Linked DNA regions of Homo sapiens. The protein of the gene in region 3 interacts with the protein of the main gene of each other region in a pairwise test. Each region holds a gene or a part of one and is shown on either strand. Other genes may lie near its edges. The genes, in order: CNOT10, PAN3 and TNRC6C.

Region 1 (7,110 bases), on a different chromosome or scaffold from region 3:
GTCAAATATTAGACCTAACTAATCACACACTAAGCTAAAGATTATGTTTACTCACTTTGAGTCTCTGTTTCCACATCAGTTAAACAAGGAACCACACTAGACAGTCTTTCAGCCCTCCCATGGTAGTATAAGGCATAAACCTCAATTTCGTTATGCTTCTCAAGGACCACTCTACTTTTCTGTGTTGTTAAGAGTTGAGGGGCTGCCTTTCTAAGATTCTAGGAACCAAATTCTAGGGTAGTTTTCTAAGATTCTAGGAACCAAAAGTTAGCAAGTGAAGAGGAAACAGAATACTTTTGAATTTGCCCAGCTGTGCTTTTTATAGGAAGAGCCATTTCTAGTCAGAGGATTTCAGAACATTTCAAAACTCTGTGGTGATATACTGGTTACATTCTTCCTTAGACTAAAATTACAACCTGAATGCACTTAATGATACATATGTGTATTGTAATTTGTAAACATAACTCAAAACCCTGTATCTGAGTGAGGTCATTTGTGGTTAGCCATTCAGACTTCATTTCTATTTGACAAGGGTTTATTTTAAGATTGCTTTGTGGAGCAGTTGTTTAACATTCAAGTGATCTATTAGTATTAAGTCTTTAACCAGACTTGTTTTAAATGAGCTGTCTGTGAAGTAGAAAACCAAATATTATAGAAACTTAGATTTCCAATCCAACTTAGCGAAATCAATGTAACTTAAACGTTGTCTTCACATATGTTTGTTTAACCTGTTTTTTTTCCTTCAGTATTCCTTTAGAAGAATAGTAACTGTGTGAATAAAACTTTTTAGTTACTCTTGATACTATGGTTTAGCAAGAACTGTAGACTTAATTGGTTGAGAAAAGAACATTTAAAGTAAATGAATGCTTTAGTAAGTTAATTATTTCTTAGCATATCACAAATATATGTAGAAAGAATAAGATCTCATTCTATAGCTTTATTCCTAGGTTATTAAAAGCAAACTTCTATGGAAGTTAGTTCTCATTAGGCTATATATATATAGTGTGTGTGTGTGTGTGTGTGTGTATTTATCTATACATATATACATACATACATACATACAGGCTATGTATTGTAATCCATTGGTTATTTTGTTGGGGATGTGGGTCAATTGGATGAAAGCTAAAGATGACTTATGTAAATAGCCAAACTGTGTTTCAGAATTGTTTTATACATCAATCTAATTCTTACCATTAGTACCGTGGCTTCCTCTCCTCTTTCCTGGTGTCCAGATTGTCACAGCTAAAGGGCATTTCTTCCTATTTAGCAAATATAACCATTATCAATGTTTAAAATGAGATTTTCGGCCCCTTCCCTTTTGTGTTATAGGTGCTCCATACTTGCTTGCAGTGCCTACGTGGCTCTGGCTTTGGGTGATAACCTCATGGCTTTGAATCATGCAGATAAACTTCTTCAGCAGCCCAAGCTGTCAGGATCTCTTAAGTAAGTGTGACTTGCCCTGTGTGTCCCTGGTTTCTTTAGTTTTGAGGTTTCTCCTTGGTTTGTGGTTTATGTTGCTTCTTTTGACTCCTCCAGTGGAATATATATTTGTAAGGAAAGCAACTGTTTAAAAGAACGTTTTTTAACCCATGCCTCGGCAGTGAAAATGTTTTCACTTGTGCTGTACTGAGCGTTAGGAGACAAAAACTTCGGACTCTAGTGTCCACTTCTAGGCTTCACTGCAGCACTTTAATTCTCCAAATAAGTCAAGTCCTCAGAGAGAAGACCTACAAAAAAAGGAGTGTGGTCAATGTGATAAATCTACTTTGAGGGACCAGGCACGGTGGCTCACGCCTGTAATCCCAGCACTTTGGGAGGCCGAGGCAGGCAAATCACGAGGTCAGGAGTTCAAGACCAGCCTGGCCAACATGGTGAAACCCTGCCTCTACTAAAAATACAAAAAATTAGCTGGGCGTAGTGGCGGGCACCTGTAATCCCAGCTACTCAGGAGGCTGAGGCAGGAGAATCGCTTGAACCCAGGAGTCAGAGGTTGCAGTGAGATCTCTGCACCACTGCACTCCAGTCTAGGCTACAGAGCAAGACTCTGTCTCAAAAAAAAAAAAAATAGACAAGAATTTGAAAAATCTTTCCAAGCTACTGTATCATTCCAGAATCAGCTAGTTTTAGTCAAACTGCAAATACTTCTTCATTAATATCATTGTCATTCTAAAATTTTCCAAAGCACATTATCTTTTCTTTTACCAAAATTGAGTAAAATACAGGCCAGGTGTGGTGGCTCATGCCTGTAATCCCAGCACTTTGGGAGGCTGAGGTAGGCAGATCATTTGAGGTCGGGAGTCTGAGACCAGCCCAGCCAACGTGGTAAAACCCCATCTCTACTAAAAATACAAAAATTAGCCAGGCATGGTGGCAGGCATCCATAATTCCAGCTACTCGGGAAGTTGAAACAGGAGAATCACTTGAGCCTGGGGGGCGGACGTTGCGGTGAGCCACGGTTGCACCATTGCACTCCAGGCGGAGTGACACAGCAAGACTCCCTCTCAAAAAATAAAAATAAAATACAGCTTGAATTTTTGTATGGTGCTGATCCTGGAAATTTTATCAAAAGCCACGAGTATTCTGCACAACATTAGAACAGTTCTTTCATTCATCGTATAGGTGTATACTTACAAATGCCAAAATATAACTACTTACTCTTTGGCTTTTTAGTGATCCCCAAACATACCTAGTGTTTTTGTTTTTTTTTTAAGTAATTAAGGCCAGGCGCTGTGGCTCACACCTGTAATCCCAGCACTTTGGGAGGCCTACCTGGGCAAATCATTTGAGGTCAGGAGTTGGAGACCAGCCCTGCCAATATGGTGAAACCCCATCTCTACTGAAAATATGAAAATTAGCCGGGCATGGGGGCACACTCCTGTAATCCCAGCTACTCGGGAGGCTGAGGCACGAGAATTGCTTGAGCCTGGGAGGCAGAAGCTGCAGTGAGCCAAGATTGTACCACTGCATTCCAAACTGGGTGACAGAGTGAGACTCCATCTCAAAAAAAAGTAATAAATCATTCAACTATATAAGAGACTTTGTCACAATTCAAATATAAGGGAGCTCCTGCTCTTCTGCAAGAAAATCTTGTCCAATATTCAGGCCTGGAGATGGGGAAGATCCTAATTTTCAGTTCAAGGCATTTGGGTTGCCTCTAAAGTACCTTCCGTCCTTATCATTGCCCAACTCAAAATGCCAATGTTGGGAATTGCAGCTGATGCTGGTGTTCAGATTGTGGTGTATACGGCCATTATGAGAGAACTGGACTTTGTGTGTTTGTGTGTGACTGAGTCTGTCTGGGTCACCCACACTAGAGTGCAGTAGCACAATCTCAACTCACTGCAACCTCCACTGTCTGGGTTCAGGCGATTCTCCTGCCTCAGCCTCCCGAGTAGCTGGGATTACAGGAGCCCACCACCACACCCGGCTAATTTTTTTTCTTTTTCTGAGACAGTTTCACTCTGTTGCCCAGGCTGGAGTGCAGTGGCATGATCTCAGCTCACTGCAACCTCTGCCTCCCCAGTTCAAGGGATTCTCCTGCCTCAGCCTCCTGCGTAGCTGGGATTACAGGTGCACGCCACTATGCCCTACTAATTTCTTTTTTTTTTTTTTTTCTTTTTTTGAAACGGAGTTTCACAGGCATGAGCCACCGCACCTGGCTACTTTTTGTATTTGCTCTTATTGCCCAGGCTGGAGTGCAATGGCGTGATCTCGGCTCATCACAGCTTCCATCTCCCGGGTTCAAGCGATTCTCCTGCCTCAGCCTCCCAAGTAGCTGGGATTACAGGCATGCACCACCACGCCCGGCTAATTTTGTATTTTTAGTAGAGATGGGGTTTCTCCATGTTGGTCAGGCTGGTCTCGAACTCCCGACCTCAGGTGATCTGCCATCTTGGCCTCCCAAAGTGCTGGGATTACAGGCATGAGCCACCATGCTCAACCTGGAGAGTTTTAAAACTATAAAAGTTTAGTTTGTGGTGGTGTTGTTCTTGTGTAGAAAGTCATTAAGATTTTGAGCAGATCAAAAGGTCCCCAGTTAAAAAAAAAAAAAAAAGCTGGGCATGGTGGCTCACGCCTGTAATACCAACACTTTGGGAGGCCAAGACGGGCGGATCACGAGATCAGGAGATCGATCTTAATTTTTATTTTTATTTTTTTTGAGATGGCGTCTCACTCTGTCATTCAGGCTGAGGTGCAGTGGCATGATCACTGCTCACTGCAGCCTCAGTCTCCCATGCTTAAGTGATTCTCCCACCTCAGCCTCCTGAGTAGCTGAGACTACAGGTGTATGCCACCACGCCCAGCTAATTTTTGTATTTTTTTTGTAGAGACAGGGTTTTGCCATGTTGCCCACGCTGTTCTCAAACTCCTGGACTCAGCAGTCCACCCACCTAGGCTTCTTGAAGTGTTGAGATTAAAGGCATGAGCCACTACACCCAGGCAGTTGATTCGTTTTACCTAAATAAATTTAGATTTCAATTTAAGGACATGAAATATGAGACCTATATCCAATGTATAATAACATAATATACCCAGCATTATTTTACATTGGGTATTTTTGTGACGTTGTACTTTTCAGTTTGGAATCTGTTTTTTCATTTTAGGTTTTTGGGACATTTATATGCTGCAGAAGCCCTCATCTCTCTCGACAGAATATCTGATGCCATTACTCACTTGAACCCGGAGAATGTCACTGATGTCTCCTTAGGGATCTCTTCAAATGAGCAGGACCAAGGTTAATGAGGACATCTTTGATCAGAACTGGTCACTGTTTCCATTTCCCTCCTGTCATAATTCAGGATGTGTGGAAATTTAGGCATGGTGGTAATGAGAAGAAAGTTTTAGGTTGGCTTTCCACATTTTTGTCTGTACTTACTTTGTAGCAGTTGTTTGCTAAGTAGACCTGAGAGTTAATGATCACATCATCTAAATTCTCACTTTTGAAAGGCTGGTACTGTTAGAATGGTTAATTTTGGTTCTGATACTATTTATTTGTTTTCCTTTGGAGTGATTCTAAAATCCATAGGGGAGTAAAAATATTGCATTCAAGAGTCAGTTTTAGTCCAGGCGTGGTGGCTCACGCCTGTAATCCCAGCACTTTGGGAGGCTGTAGCAGGAGGGTCACTTGAGCCCAAGAGTTCAAGACCAGCCTGGGCAACCTGGTGAGACCCTGTCTCTATTTTAAAAATAAGGAAAGAAAAAAAAGTTTGTTTTAAGTCATTGCTAAATTTCTAAATAATTGTCGGGTGCGGTGGCTCACACCTGTAATCCCAACACTTTGGGAGGCCGAGGCAGGTGGATCACCTGAGGTCAGGAGTTCAAGACCAGCCTGGCCAACATAGTGAAACCCCGTCTCTACCAAAAATACAAAATTAGTAGGGCGTGGTGGTGCAAGCCTGTAATCTCACCTACTCAGGAGGCTGAGACAGGAGAATCGCTTGCACCTGAGAGGTGGAGGTTGCAGTGAGCCAAGATCACGCCACTGCACTCCAGCCTGGGTGACAGAGCAAGACTCTGTCTGAAGAAAAAAAAAAAATTAAATAATTAAAGCTATGTGACATTCATTTTACTCAAGACTAGTGCTCAGGTTTGAGATGGTGGTGGGTGGTAGCATTCTGGCATTTTTTAATGGAATCTCCACTACATGAAAAGTAAATAAATTGCTTTATATTAAATTTCCATTTCATAAAGAAAGTTAGGTTTTTAGAAAATATGCTCTCAGCTGGCCACAGTGGCTCACACCTGTAATCCCAGCACTTTGGGAGGCTGTGGTGGGTGGATCACCTAAGGTCAGGAGTTCAAGACCAGCCTGACCAACATGGTGAAACCCTGTCTCTACTAAAAATACAAAATTAGCCAGGCATGGTGGTATGCCCCTGTAATCCCAGCTACTCAGGAGGCTGAGGCCAGAGAATCACTTGAACTCAAGAGGCGGAGGTTGCAGTGAGTCGTGCCATTGCACTCCAGCCTGGGCGGCAACAAGAGCAAAACTCCATCTCCAAAAAAAAAACCAGCCTGACCAACATGGTGAAACCCCGTCTCTACTAAAAATACAAAAACTAGCCAGGGATGGTGGCACATGCCTGTAATCCCAGCTACTCAGGAGGCTGAGGCAGGAGAATCGCTTGAATCCAGGAGGCGGAGGTTGCAGTGAGCCGAGATCATGCCCCTGCACTCCAGCCTGGGCAACAGAGCGAGGCTCCATCTCAAAAAAAAAAAAAAGAAAAGAAAAGAAAATATGCCCTCTACCTTCTGAGCCCGAGGAGAAAAGAAAGAAAATATGCTCTGTTGTTCTGCCCCTCAGATTTATTTTCGTGTTTTTGTAGGATCAGACAAAGGTGAAAATGAAGCAATGGAATCCTGTAAGTAAGAAGTTTTGTGATACTTAAGTAGCCTGGCCTGCATCCCAAAAATTTAGATTCTAAATCTTCTGTGTTCGTTTTTCTGCCTGAGGAATACTGCTGTGCCAAGTGGCTCCTCAAGGCGATAGATTGGGTTGCTTCCTTGCTGTTGGCACGGCCTCTTCACCAGTGTCTACACTCTTTTTCCCCAGCTGGTAAGCGGGCCCCTCAGTGCTACCCCAGTTCCGTCAACTCTGCCAGGACTGTGATGCTGTTCAACCTTGGCAGCGCTTACTGCCTGAGGAGCGAATATGACAAAGCCCGAAAGTGTCTCCACCAGGTGAGTCCAGAGTGGGAGGAACTGAACCTTGTAAAGCAGCCAACACAAGTTTGAGGTTTATATTTTTTGTTACTTTGTTTGAAGCATCTGATCAGTTTGTTAAATATTGGAATATCACTTTCCCAGATATAAAAATATTCTTGCAAGGTAAACAACTAATCAGCATTGTAAATGAACCTAGACACTTAAAGGAAAGTTCTTCTTGATGATTTTATTTTAAAAAAAATTTTTTTTTGCCAGGCACAGTGGCTCATGCCTCCCAGCACTTTGGGAGGCCGAGGCAGGCGGATCATGAGGTCAGGAGTTTGAGACCAGCCTGGCCAATATGGTGAAACCCCATCTCTACTAAAAATACAAAAATTAGCCAGGTTGGTGGCACGCACCTGTAGTCCCAGCTACTCGGGAGGCTGAAGCAGGAGAATCGCTTGA
Region 2 (7,110 bases), on a different chromosome or scaffold from region 3:
TTTTTCACTATGTACTCTTTTGCACTATTTAAATTTTTAACCTGTGCATGTATTACATTTCTAATTCCAAAAACAAGATATTGTTCTTATTTTTCTGACACTGGCATTTTTTTAAATATTAAAAATATATAACCAGGCATGGTGGTACATGCCTGTAGTCCCAGCTACTCAGTGGACTGAGGAGAGAGATTTGCTAGAGCCCAGGAGTTCAACGCTGCAGCGAGCTATGATTGTACCACAGTACTCCAGCCTGGGCAAATGAGCAAGACCCCATCTCTAAAAAATATATATATACAAACACACACGCTATAATTTAAAACTAGCTTTAGGCAGGGTGTGGTGGTCTTTAATTCCAACATTCTCGGAGGCCAAGACAGGAGGATCACTTGAGCCCAGGAGTTAGAGAACAGCCTGGGAAACACAGGGAGACCCCATCTCCACAAAAAATTCAAAAAGGAGCTGGACATGGTGGCTTATGCCTGTAGTCTCAGCTACTTGGGAGGCTGAGGCAGAAGAATCGCTTGAGCCCAGCAAGTCGAGACTGCAAAGAGCTGTGATCACACCACTGCACTCCAGCATGGGAAACAGAGCAAGACTTTGTCTCAAAAAGAAAAGAAAAAAAAATCAAACTAGCTTTAGAAAAATAGGAACAGTATCTTTATTTTTTACAGAAAAAGCAAGAGAGAGAATGCCAAAAGAGGTATCAGAAAAGACAAAGCTTTTTTCAGGGAAGAGGGCTATTACCTACATGCCAACTGACTCAGCCAGGATTAGTGAGATCTGCATACCCTTACTTAGACAATTCCCAACTGACTATGATGGTTTGACTTTATGATGATGTGAAAAATGATATGAGTTCAGTAGAAACCATATTTCAGATTTTGAGGTTTAATCTTTTCCCAGGTTAGTGATTCGTGGTATCATACTATGTCACAAAGTTGCACAATGGCAGCAGGCTACAGCTCCCAGTGAACCACTCAATTAGGAGGGTAAACAACTGATACAGTATACTGTGCTGTCAGGTAATTTTGCCCAACTGTAGCTAATGTAAGCATTCTGGGCCTATTTAAGGTAGGCTAGGCTAAGCTATGATGTTTGATGGGTTAGGTGAATTAAACGCATTTTCAACTTAACAATAGTTTCTACTTAACAAGGGTTTTATTGGGATGTAACTATTTTAAGTCAGTACTGTTATGTCAAAAATGCGTTTAATGCCTGAATAAACTCATCCTAAAGTCAAAAACTGGAAGTCGAATCATCGTAAATCTAGATATTCCTTAGACTTATGGATGGGGCTACATTCTGATAAATGAATTGTAAATTCAAAATGTGGGGACCATCTGCAAAGAAATGTATTTTCACACAGACCGAATGACTAGCCAAAGGCTAGTTTTATTTTGTAAGAAACCGCAATAAAATTAAAATTTCGGTCCAGTACTAATTACTAAGTACTGAAATGAGACACAAACATATATTGATTTGTTGGTAACAATGTTTTGGTCGATAACAAACCAAATGTATGACGGTGATCACATAAAACTGTAACACTATATTTTTACTGTACCTTTTCTATTTTTTTCTTTTCCTTTTTTTTTTGAGACGGAGTCTTGCTTTGTCACCAGGCTGGAATGCAGTGGCACGATCTCAGGTCGCTGCAACCCTGCAACCTCTGCCTCCCGGGTTCAAGCAATTCTCCTGCCTCAGCCTCCCTAGTAACTGGGACTACAGGTGTGCTCCACCACGCCCAGCTAAGTTTTTGTATTTTTAGGAGACAGGCTTTCTCCATGTTGGCCAGGATGGTCTGTATCTCTTGACCTCATGATCCGCCTGCCTTGGCCTCCCAAAGTATCAGGATTACAGGTGTGAGCCACTGCGCCTGGCCTGTTTAAATGTTTTAATACACAAATACTTACCTTTGTATACCACTGCCTAAAGTATTCAGTACAGTAACAGGCTGTACAAATTTGTGGCCTAGAAGCAACAGGTTATAGACCATATCACCTAGCATGCAGTAGGCTATACCATCTAGGTTTGGGTGCTCACATACCTAGATAATATAGCCAGGAGAGAGCCCTCACCAGGAACCCAACTCCTCATCTGGGACTTCCAACCTCTGAAAGTCTGAGAAAATACTTTTCTGTTATTTAAACCACCTAGCCACTCAAGTTCCTGGATCTATGGGGGGAGGAGGGGCAGGGGGAAGTTAACTACCCAGCCTATAATATTTTCTTTTGGCAACCCAAGCTAATATGAGAGAGAGAGAGAGAGAGAGAGAGACAGAGAAAGAGGAAAAAATATATATATTTAGGTATATATGGTATACATATATTTTAATATATATACTAGATATATGTCTATACCATACAATGTGTAGAAAAGATCTAAACACACAGACTATTAATAATGATTAACCCTGGACAATAAGATGAGGAGACTGATTTATTTTGACTTTATACACTTCTATTCCAATGTAAATTTTTACCAAAAAAGTGTACCTTTCATCATGTAAAAACTGAGGGCCAAGCATGGTGACTCACACCTGCAATCCCAGCACTTTGGGAGGCTGAGGCAGCCTTGAAGTTAGGGGTTCGAGACCAGCCTGGCCAACATGGTGAAACCCTCATCTCTACTAAAAATATAAAAATTAGCTGGGCGTGGTGGCGCAAGCCTGTAATCCTAGCTACTCAGGAGGCCGAGACATGAGAATTGAGAATCACTTGAACCTGGGAGGTGGAGGCTGCAGTGTGCCAAAATTGCGCCACTGCACTCCAGCCTGGGTGACAGAGGGAAACTGTCTCAAAAAAAAAAAAAAAAAAAAAATTAGCTTGGCACGGTGGCTTCCACCTGTCACCCCAGCTACTTCAGAGACCAAGGCAGGAGTATTGCTTGAGGCCAGAAGTTCAAGGCCAGCTCGTCTCCTTAAAAAAAAATTAAAAGTTAAAAACAAATTAGGCTAGGCACAGTGGGTCACGCCTATAATCCTAGCACTTTGGGAGGTCAAGGTGAGCAGATTGCTTGAGGTCAAGAGTTTGAGACCCGCCTGGCCAACATGGTGAAACCCTGTCTCTACTAAAAAGGCAAAGAAATTAGCCAGGCACGGTGGCATGTGCCTGTAAGTCCAGCTACTCATGAGTCTATGGCATGAGAATTGCTTGAACCCAGGAGGCGGAGGTTGCAGTTAGCAGAGATCACACCACTGCACTCCAGCATGGGTGATAGAGTGAGACTCTGTCTCAAAAAATTGTCAAAAAAAAGTCAAAAAATTGAAAGCCAAACCATTAAGTTAGGCACGATCTGTAATATGTACACACATACACACACACACGCAAGTGCAAATAAGACCGTGGAAATGTAAACAAGTAGACTACAGCAATCAATACTGGCCATGATACTGTACTACAGCTACAAAAGATGTTACTATCCTTTATAAAAGAAGAGTACATGAGATATCCGTATTGTATCTTACAATTTCGGGTGATTCTATAATTATCTCAAAATAAAAAGTTCATTTAAAATTGGGGGAAAAATTCCTCAAAATGGCATATAAAAGGATGATATTGGGCCAGGCGCGGTGGCTCACGCCTGTAGTCCCAGCGCTTTCGGAGGCTGAGGCAGGTGGATCACGAGGTCAGGAGTTCAAGACCAGCCTGGCCAAGATGGTGAAACCCCATCTCTACTAAAAATACGAGAATTAGCCAGTCGCGGTGGCAGGCTCCTGTAATCCCAGCTACTTGGGAGCTGAGGCAGGAGAACCGCTTGAACCTGGGCAGCAGAGGTTGCAGTGAGCCAAGATGGCGCCAGTGCACTCCATCCTGGGCTACAGAGTGAGGCTCTGAGGAAAAAAAAAAAAAAAAAAAAAGATGATGTTTTGGTTTGCTTTTGATAATCATTTATCTTCTTAAAGGGTCATTTCAAATGCACTTTCAGTCTATGATCATACCACTCTGAACACGCCCGATCTCATCAAATGCACTTTTACAGGAAAAAGTGCTTTATTTGTTAACTCAATCTCACCTGGAGTTACGTTATCCCTCGAGTTTTCCTCATAAAACTTATCGAAACCGGCCGGGCCCAGTGGCTCACGCCTGTAATCCCAGCACTTTGGGAGGCCGAGGCAGGTGGATCATGAGGTCAGGAGATTGAGACCATCCTGGCTAACACGGTGAAACCCCGTCTCTACTAAAAATACAAAAAAATTATCTGGGCGTGGTGGCGGGCGCCTGTAGTCCCAGCTACTCAGGAGGCTGAGGCAGGAATGGCGTGAACCCAGGAGGCGGAGCTCGCAGTGAGCCGAGACTGCGCCACTGCACTCCAGCCTGGGAGACAGAGCGAGACTCCATATCAAAAAAAAAAAAAAAAAAAAAAACAAAAAAACTTATCGAAACCAAGTATTACCTTATAGATATTTATAGCCCCACTAGAATGTAAACTCCATTAGGGCTGAATTATGTTTTTTTGTTGCTGTTGTTGTTCCTATCACCTTAATCAGAGCTTACCACCTTGGAAGCAGGATATTAAATGAGTGAAATGAACAGTATTATAAAGCCTTCATGATATACTAAGTATATTATTCCAATAAAAATGTTTAAACTTATGCCAGCTATCCTAACAGCAAATCGCCAGTACTCACTTCTCTGTCACTTAGTATAGGTTTGTGGGATGAAAAGGCTAGTCTTGGCTTAAACAAAAACAGCTTTGCCACACGCTACACATTACATATTCCAAAGCTAACATTTGAACTTCAAGTTATCCATGGCACTGCTCTCCTCCATTTGGACAATCACAATTCAATAATCTGTAGCTATTTTACTAGTCTTCAATGTATGCCCTCAAAAATTTGAAGAAGGAAATACAGAGGTTAACTATAGATTATTAATATTTAATAATAGCAATAACTAAGACTGAAACCTCAATATGTGCAGGCAATGCCATGCAATTTTCATAACATCTCCATTTTCCAGATGAGAAAAACTGAGGCTTAAAGGTTAAAAATTCGTTCAGTCACAAAGCTAGTCAAAGAGCCAGGATTCTATCTGAAACATGTCTTATTCACTAGTAACTACATTAGGAGAATTGAAAAGTGTATTTTGGTAAATTAAAACTACTGGGTTTCAAATAATGTACATAAAATACAAATATTGGCATATTTTACCTGTTAAAAATTGTACACTTTGAAGATTAAAGCCATTTTGAAAATCTAGCCAGTTGAAAATATTAGAATTACATCATTAAATGTCAAGAATCGATAATGCAGTTGAATACAAATCAAATCACTCTTAAGCCTTAGAAAAATCCCAAGACTAACAGAAATACGAAATGTTACGTAAGCTACATGGTACGGCATACCTGTAGTCCCAGCTACTCAGGAGGCTGAGGTGCTAGGATCACTTGAGCCCAGGAGTTGGAGTCCAACCTAGACAACACAGCAAGAACTCCCAACCCCCTCCTCAAAAAAAACAAAAACAAAAACAAAAACAAAAAATCAAATTGCAGTTTCCTTATAAGGTTGAAACATCATTGCAACTAAGTGTATTAAGAAAAAGCCTTTGTGCTTCAGTTTTCCAATGGCTGCAAAATAAAGATAAAGTTTTCTCATGCACCCACCTCCAAGGTTTTAACACTATCTGAAACACCAACAAAACAAAAACAATTCTGCAAATGTGAAGTGCTAAAGTTAGAGTCAAAACCTCAAATGCCTAGATATAAAAGTCATCCAGTTAGGGAATGAGTCAAAATGGAGAGAATTATGCTCTATCAACAGCTCTAATTCCAACACAGGTAAGAGACATCCTTAAAGGGAAACCAGAAATTTGTACTTCTATATTAAATCTTTTGTTTCTTTTGTTGTCAAATGATTCAATCAAAACCCACAAACATAGAAATTAAAAACACTAAATTATGGTATATATGGTGGCTCACAGGGTAGGCAGATCGCTTTGAGCCCAGAAGTTTGAGACCGGCCTGGGCAACATGGGGAAACCTCATCTCTACCAAAAATACAAAATAATTAGAGGTGCTTGGTAGCCAGTGCCTGTGGTCCCTGTCTCAAAAAAAAAAAAAAAAAAATTGCCATCTATTTTAACTGCCTCACACACATAATTAACCAATGAAGGCCAGATGTGGTAGCTCACACCTATAATCCCAGTACTTTGAGAAGTCAAGGCAGGAGATTGCTAGAGCCCAGGAGTTCGAAACCAGCCTGGACAACACAGCAAGACATCATCTCTTCAAAATAAAATAAACGGATCAATACTGTCTCAAAACACACTGAATGAGAATACAGTAAAAGGTAGAAAGCAGTCTAAAAAATGAACAATAAGTGTAAAAACTCAAAAAAGCCATACAATTACCAACACAACCTTTTTTCCTGATTCCTGAGCAACATTATTTCCCACTCCTTGGTATCTCTCAGTAATACCTAGGTTGTGATTCCTTATGAAGAAATCTCCATCCATAAGGAATTACTGAGAGATACCAAGAAGCCTATCACAGAAAAGAGGAGCCTTAGGCTTCAGCCAGACAAGCTAAAGCAAACACCACAGAATCTAAATACATAAATCAACTATTTAATCAGACAACTTTTACTAACAAGTGACAAAGTATTAATTTTAAAATACCTTTTCAGCATTAACTGCCTGTCCTCTCGAGTCCCTATATCTCAGTTATTTTCCTAAGATGTCCCACCTTTGAGCCACTGCTAATATTTTTTCCTCCACCTTAAGGGTACTTACCTTCCCCTCCCATCTTCATCTGCTTACATCCTGTCCTCTTTCAAGTCTCAGCCCTTCTACCTATTGTGTGTTAATTAGAAAATCCTCGGCCAGGTGCGGTGGCTCCCGCCAGTAATCCCTAGGAGGCCGAGGCAGGCGGATCACCTGAGATCAGGAGTTTGAGACCAGCCTGACCAACATGGAGAAACCCCGTGTCTACTAAAACTACAATATTAGCTGAGCGTGGTGGTGCCTGCCTGTAATCCCAGCTACTAGGGAGTCTGAGGCAGGAGAATCTCTTGAACCCGGGAGGCAGAGGTTGCGGTGAGCCGAGATCACTAGATTGCACTCCAGCCTCGTAAACAAGAGTGAAACTCCGTCTCAAAAAAAAAAAAAAAAA
Region 3 (7,110 bases):
CACTTCTTAAAAAGCAGTGGTTGTTGATACAACTCATTTTGTATGAAATGTGATTTGTATAATCGACCAAATCAACATATATATGTTGAAATCTAACTTGTAGAAGCACACTCAGCACTTGAAACCCGCAGGTCAGTAGAAGACATGGTGCCAGGCCTCGAGGTCAGGCCAGTCAGGAGAGACACAGCTCACATACCTGAAGACACCAGAGGGTATAAATTAGTAAATTGATTCTGCATGGACTAATTTGCCGTAAGAATTCAGAAGTTAGTGAAAGCACTTTAGGCTTGTCTGTTGATTGCTATTAGAGTCTGTAGATACAGGACAAAGGGTTATCGGTAACTTGGAAAATACATCTGTAAAGGGGCAAAGGCCAGTTGAGTGGTAGTGAATTTGCTGCCAGCAGATAATATTCATTTATCTAATTCTATTCAATGTCTCTGAAAAGAGCGGTATATTGTAATCATATGAATCCTTTTTACTTGACATATTATAAATGTGGTATATCTTTAATATGAGATTGATAAATACTAGACTAGATGATCTCGTTCCTTAATTATTGTCTCATCCATTAGAGCCCTTTGTGTCGAAGTAGGTAAGACCTGACTTAGGAATTAGACTCCCTAGGTTTGAGTCCCAACTCACCACCAAGAGGCTCACTACTAACTTGGGCAACTTGCCTAGCTGCTGTTTGCTTCAATTTCTTTATTTTTCTTTCTTTTTTTTTTGGTAGAGACAGGGTCTTTCTATGTTGCCCAGGCAAGTCTCAAAACTCCTGGCCTCAAGTGATCCTCCCTAAGTGTTAGGATTACAGGCCTGAGACACCATACTGAGCCATGCCTTAATTTCTTCATCTGTAATGTGGAAATACTTAACTCCTAGGTTTGTTTTAAAGATTAAATGAGCTAATATGTAAAGTTCTCTTTTTTCTTTTTTTTTTCTCTCTCTTTTTTTTTTTGGCTGGAGTGCAGTGGCGTGATCATAGCTCATTGCAGCCTCAAACTCCTGGCCTTAAGTGATCCTGCTGGTCTCAGCTTCCCAAAGTGCTGTGATTACAGGCATGAGCCATCACACCTGGCCTAATATGTAAAGTTCTTAAATAGTGCCTAGCACATAGCAAACACTTTGTAAAATGTCAGCTACTTATGTAAGTGCTTCTGTTTTAGAAACAAATTTCATCCCACCTATTATCCTAAAATGCATTAGCTTCAGCTTTCTATTATTCACCTGTCTTCTTAACCTATATTTGGAGGATAAAGTACACTTATCGTTACTTTTTTTTTTTTTTTTTTTTTTTTTTGAGATAGAGTCTTGCTCTGTTGCCCAGGCTGGAGTGCGATGGCGCAGTCTCGGCTCACTGCAACCTCCACCTTCTGGATTCAAGCAATTCTCCTGCCTCAGCCTCCCAAATTGATGGGATTACAGGCATGCATCACCACGCCTGGCTAATTTTTGTATTTTTAGTAGAGACTGGGTTTCACCATGTTGGCCAGGCTGGTCTCAAACTCCTGACCTCAAGTGATCCGCTCACCTAAGCCTCCCAAAGTGTTGGGATTACAGGCGTGAGCCACCGTGCCCGACCACTTATCTTTACTCTTAAGGATTTTTTCTCTTAGTACAAGTTAAAGAATTCATGCAGTGAATCTTTGAAATTAGTTGAAAAATAATTTGGATAATATTTTATAATATTCACAGTAAAGTTATAAATGTATTAAAAGCAAATAACTAATAAAGTCTAGGAAACTTTGGTTGTAAAATTGCCTATCTTGTTGGCTCTCAGCATTTCTCTGCAGCAGCACCTATGTTGAAGAGCCTGTTAGACACTCATCAATTCATGTAAAGAAACCAGCAGCCCATGGTCAGTAGTGGGGGCTCCTAGCTACCTTCCTTCCCTCATGTTCAGCCTGTCGTTGTTATTCTCAGTCTTTTGCCACCTGGAGTTCGCCATCTAGATAGGAAGAGCAGGCATATAAATGGGAAAAAATAACCTTGATACCAGTGTCATGTGATTCTTACAGGGCTCTAGAGAAGGAAAAGTTCACTTTCACTTTGAGTGGTGAAAGAAAAATCAGAGAGTAGGATTAAGCTTGAACCTCAAATGATTGGATAGGATTACAGTAAATAAAGAGGAAGCCTTTCCAAATAAAGGGGAAGCCTCACGTAGCACAGAAGAAAGAGGCCTGGCTTGTTTCAGGGGCCCATTTTGCAAGGGCCAGGCCAGTCTAGCTGACTTTCCCAGAGGGGAAAGTTGGGAGAGATGGGTTGGCGCCAAATTGTGAAATTTGGAGCATTCTGAAGGCCAGGTTGAAGCCCTGACATTGTTGCCACCTTACCTGGCTAGATCTGTACAAGCTGAAACGAAAAGAACCCACACAGCAGAGATTGCAAGTAGGCAGCCCTGTGGCACTGATGGGCTTGCAAAGGCGTTTTGTTAGGTCTGCGAAGTGTGTGTGTGCATGTGCATAGGTGTGTGTTAATGCCAACATTCAAAAATTGGGGAAAGTGGCTTCTGGCTTCTCTTAAAAATGGCTATAGTGGGTCTATGTTCCAGGTAGCAATAGGTGGTTGGCCCCAGTAGCACCTGTTTATTTAGACAGGACAGACACTCTCTGGTTTGCCACAGTCCCCATGAAGCCCACTTCTTCATGTGCATGGCCCACCTGGCTCCTATGGGCATTTGAATTTGCAGCCTCTGAAATAAAGGTAAGAACCAGAATGTTCAGCACCTGGCTAAGTAGTAGAGGCTCACTGTGCTTACGTACCGTGTGGCGTAGTACTTACGGTAAGGACCTATGGGGTATGTGTATGTGGTAAGGGGAACTGCAGCTGGAAATACAAGGGGAGGGGGGCGCTTGTGCTGGTTATTCCCTTCCAAACAAGCAGTCTGTCCTGCTCCAAACTAGTGTCCTCATCAGAAACTCTTTACTTCAACCTTCTTTTCATTGTCCTCCTCATCATCTTTCTTTATTAACCTAGCTTAGTGCAGGTCCTGGACAAATAACCAGGTACCTGCTTTTAGCTATAAGGAATGAGCCCAGAAGCCTCAGCTCACCATCCCAGCTGGGGGCAGATGGCAGCACCCCCGCTGTCAAATAGTTCAGTTCCTTAAAAGTAGTTTGATACTTAATTCACAGACTCTTTCAGAGCAGACTTTTGTAAAGGAAACTCACTAAAGGTAGAACTGAATTATCCTATCAGTCTGTTTCATAGGTGGTACTTTAGAGTTCTGGAAAAGTGTTTTTGACCTGATGAGTTTCCGTAAGATATCCCAAAACAAAGAAAGATTTTCCTAATAGTTTGGACTTTTTCTATTTTCCTGTGGACTCTGAGAAGCCTCAGGACCATGTTTATTCAGCACTGAAACAAGTAAAATGAAGAGAATTGTGGGCCTTACTTAATCAAAGACTATTCACATTTTCACCTTAATTTAGGAATAATATTCCTAGAAATACATGTTGTTATGACGATAAGTAGTATTTTTTCACCAGCACTAAAAGTTATAGTTAAAATATTTTGCTGTATCCCAGCTACTTGGGAGGCTGAGGCAGGAGAATCGCTTGAACCTGGGAGGCGGAGGTTGCAATGAGCCAAGATTGTGCCATTGCACTCCAGCCTGGGCATCAAGAGCAAGACTCCGTCTCAAAAAAAAAAAAAAATTTGCTGTAAGCGAAGACTGAAATAGCTTCTATAGGAGAGCTTTAGAATGAAGTCATTTAGAGGAGCAGGCGAATCCTAACCGCATCTCTCTCTTTAGCTGGACTGAACCCAAACATGAATGTCAACAGCATGGACATGACCGGTGGCTTGTCGGTGAAGGACCCATCCCAGTCCCAGTCACGCCTCCCCCAGTGGACGCACCCCAACTCCATGGATAACTTGCCCAGTGCCGCTTCCCCCCTGGAGCAGAACCCTAGCAAGCATGGTACGTCTGAGCTAGGATGCCTGTGGTGGGATCACTGCTGGCTTATTAATCGATCGTCCTGTTGTATAGCATGGCCATTCTATACTTTTCTAAGAATTGAGCACTGAAAGTTGGATTTAAAATAACCCATTCCATTATAGTGCATATAAGATCTCAGCTAGTCACTGATCAAACTTCTTAAAACCCAACCATTAGATCTTAGCTACAAACTTAGAAATAATTTGAAAACCCCAGAGCAGCAAAGAATCTAGGTCATAGCCTGTGTACTTTTTTTATGTATCTATATTCATCAACAAAAACTTGAGTCTGCTGAAATGTTTTCAATAAAATGGTAAAACATAAATAGAAAATCAAATATACAGTATGTATGGGAACTGCAGCTGTAAATACTAGGGTGCATTTCTGTTGGTTATTCCCCTCCATCCAAGCAGTCTGTCTTACTCCAAACTGGTGTCCCCATCGGGAACTCTTTACTGATGGACACACGAGTAAGGTGGAAGCAAAAATGATAACCATAGGAGGTAATCTCACTCTCAAGCATTAAATTTAACTCTGAACTTCCTGGTAGAATAAACAGCAAAGGAAATTCAGTAGGTTACGTAGTTCTCTCTTGATAGGAAGCATTCTAAAAAGAAAAAGGAAACTATGTCTCATGGTTAACTTACGGAAAATCATCACACACTGCTGGCACCTTTCTTAGCAGGAGGGCTCTGCTGCCTGTAGCTGGTTGGTTTGGTTCTGTATGAATTTTTAACATCCACTGTGTTCTTCCGTAGTGAGGGTTTCAGACTAAAAGGAGGGAAGAGATAACAGCAAATTTGATAGCTAATCACAAAGACTCATAAGTTGTCCCCAAAAAGATTTATTAAGGGCAGCTTCCCATGGTATGGATATGTATTTTGTAAAGACTTCTTACTGGACAAACTGAAATTGTTCTTCAAGGGTTTCAATCTTTCAGGGCTGAAATTGTAGCTAACTGAAACAGTCACTGGCCAGGCATGGTGGCTCACACCTGTAGTTCCAGCTACTTGGGAGGCCAAGGTGGGAGGATCGCTTGAGCCCAGGAGGTTGAGCCCTGATCACATCACTACACTCCAGCCTGGGCCACAGAGTGAGAAGTTGTCTCAAAAAAATAAATAAATAAATAAATAAAGTCATTGATTCTTACAGAATCCTAGACAGACCAAGTCTTACAATTCATGTAACTGAATAGGGCAAGGCATTGGACCTAGAACAGAAGGTACATAGGGAGGCTTAGGGTATCTTCTGGTGTCTCTCAACTGGAGAGTATTCACTCGCTTCTTTGTTTCCTATTGTCCCCATAGGTGCTATCCCTGGAGGTCTAAGCATTGGGCCTCCAGGTAAGTCCTCCATTGATGACTCCTATGGCCGGTACGATTTAATCCAGAACAGTGAGTCACCAGCCAGTCCTCCCGTAGCTGTTCCCCATAGCTGGTCACGTGCCAAATCTGACAGTGATAAAATCTCAAATGGCTCTAGCATCAACTGGCCCCCAGGTAAGACCATGCAACACTTCTGTGCAACAGCAGCAGGTCAGAATGTGCTCCAAGCCTGCAGAGAGTGATTAGGCTGAGAGGACCCAGAATCTGAGCTAAGGATCTGGAAGCGTTAAGCCCAGAGCTTTGGCATTTTCCTTGGAAATCCATTTGTCAGATCAATTTTGGGTATGGTTAGCATCAGGCATTTTTCTGTAAACCCTTAGTTCAGCATGAGGAGTGGAAGGGGTGGCAGGGAGGAAGCACACTGCACACTATCCGGTAAAACTATTCCAACCCTGTGTGAAAACTAGCTTAATATGATAGCTGTGATACCTGGTTCTAGTTTGTTCCAAAGGATTGATTGCTTTAATGAAAGAGAGTATAAGGTGTACCTCTAATTTAATTAGCAGATTATAAAAATTTCTACAAACAGGACAAAACATCTTTTAAAATTTCGTGAATCAATGTGCCGGTGTTCTGATCTGTGGCTTCTCATTTTGGTTTCTTAAACAGAATTCCATCCGGGAGTTCCATGGAAAGGACTGCAGAATATTGACCCTGAGAATGACCCTGACGTCACTCCTGGCAGTGTCCCCACTGGGCCTACCATCAACACCACCATCCAGGATGTCAACCGCTACCTCCTCAAGAGTGGAGGTGAGGGTGCTGCTCTTCCTGCCTCTGCATGGACGGTCTCTCTAGACCCATTTGGAGATGTCAGGGGTGACAGGTTGGGCTGTGAGGCAGGGATGATACAAGGCACAGTTGGCGGGCACCTTTTCTAGTCACCTGAAGCAGCATGAAAAGACAGCAGGTAGTGCTTATGGAGAAATGGAAATCAATTTGAGTTTCTGCTGGATTTTTTATTATTATTACTTTTTTTTTTTTTTTGCGATGAAGTCTCACTCTGTCGCCCAGGATGGAGTGCAGTGGCATGATCTCAGCTCTCTGCAATCTCCACCTTCTGGGTTCAAGCGACTCTCCTGCCTCAGCCTCCCAAGTAGCTGGAATTACAGGCATGTGTGCCACCATACCAAGCTAATTTTTGTATTTTTAGTAGAGACAGGGTTTTGCCATGTTGGCCAGGCTGGTCTCGAACTCCTGACCTCAGGTGTCGCCCATGCTGCTGGATTTATTGATAAGTAATGTCTTATCATAGAAGTGCCATCTCTGATAAAGTTTTATCACAGCATGCTATTTTGTGGAAGGAAGAGCTAGATTGCCATAGGTACTATCACTAATAAGGCCACCTAGATAGTTCCCAAAACATTGAATTTCCCACTTGAAATATGACTCATTGGAGCCATGTGTTTTGTGTTTGCTTCTTTTGTTTCTTTTTTTTTTTTTTTTGAGACAGATTCTCGCTCTCTTGCCCAGGCTGGAGTATAGTGGCGTGATCTTGGCTCACTGCAACCTCCGCCTCGCAGGCTCAAGTGATTCTCATGCCTCAGCCTCCCGATTAGCTGGGACTACAGGCGTGCACCACCACACCCAGCTAATTTTTTCTATTTTTAGTAGAGATGGGGTTTCACCATGTTTGCCAGGCTGATCTCGAACTCCTGACCTCAAGTGATCCGCCTGCTTTGGCCTCCCAAAGTGCTGGGATTACAGGCGTGAGCCAGTGTGCCTGGCTGCTTCTGTGGTTCTTTAAAGTGATAGGCTTCTAAATGTGCCTGTGGTTTGGCTGGA

The links.
Region 1: the proteins of TNRC6C (region 3) and CNOT10 interact in binary tests that used the Homo sapiens proteins (3 or more experiments, as listed by UniProt).
Region 2: the proteins of TNRC6C (region 3) and PAN3 interact in binary tests that used the Homo sapiens proteins (3 or more experiments, as listed by UniProt).

What each region holds. Positions count from the first base shown.
Region 1 is NC_000003.12:32,758,129-32,765,238, forward strand, and holds part of CNOT10 (CCR4-NOT transcription complex subunit 10), read left to right. Parts: intron 1-1,329; coding exon 1,330-1,443; intron 1,444-4,604; coding exon 4,605-4,735; intron 4,736-6,326; coding exon 6,327-6,362; intron 6,363-6,553; coding exon 6,554-6,681; intron 6,682-6,921; exon of another isoform or gene 6,922-7,049; intron 7,050-7,110. UniProt on the Homo sapiens protein: Component of the CCR4-NOT complex which is one of the major cellular mRNA deadenylases and is linked to various cellular processes including bulk mRNA degradation, miRNA-mediated repression, translational repression during translational initiation and general transcription regulation.
Region 2 is NC_000013.11:28,141,468-28,148,577, reverse strand, and holds part of PAN3 (PAN2-PAN3 deadenylation complex subunit PAN3), read right to left. Parts: intron 1-7,110. UniProt on the Homo sapiens protein: Regulatory subunit of the poly(A)-nuclease (PAN) deadenylation complex, one of two cytoplasmic mRNA deadenylases involved in general and miRNA-mediated mRNA turnover.
Region 3 is NC_000017.11:78,087,686-78,094,795, forward strand, and holds part of TNRC6C (trinucleotide repeat-containing gene 6C protein), read left to right. Parts: intron 1-3,754; coding exon 3,755-3,922; intron 3,923-5,247; coding exon 5,248-5,439; intron 5,440-5,934; coding exon 5,935-6,078; intron 6,079-7,110. UniProt on the Homo sapiens protein: Plays a role in RNA-mediated gene silencing by micro-RNAs (miRNAs). Required for miRNA-dependent translational repression of complementary mRNAs by argonaute family proteins.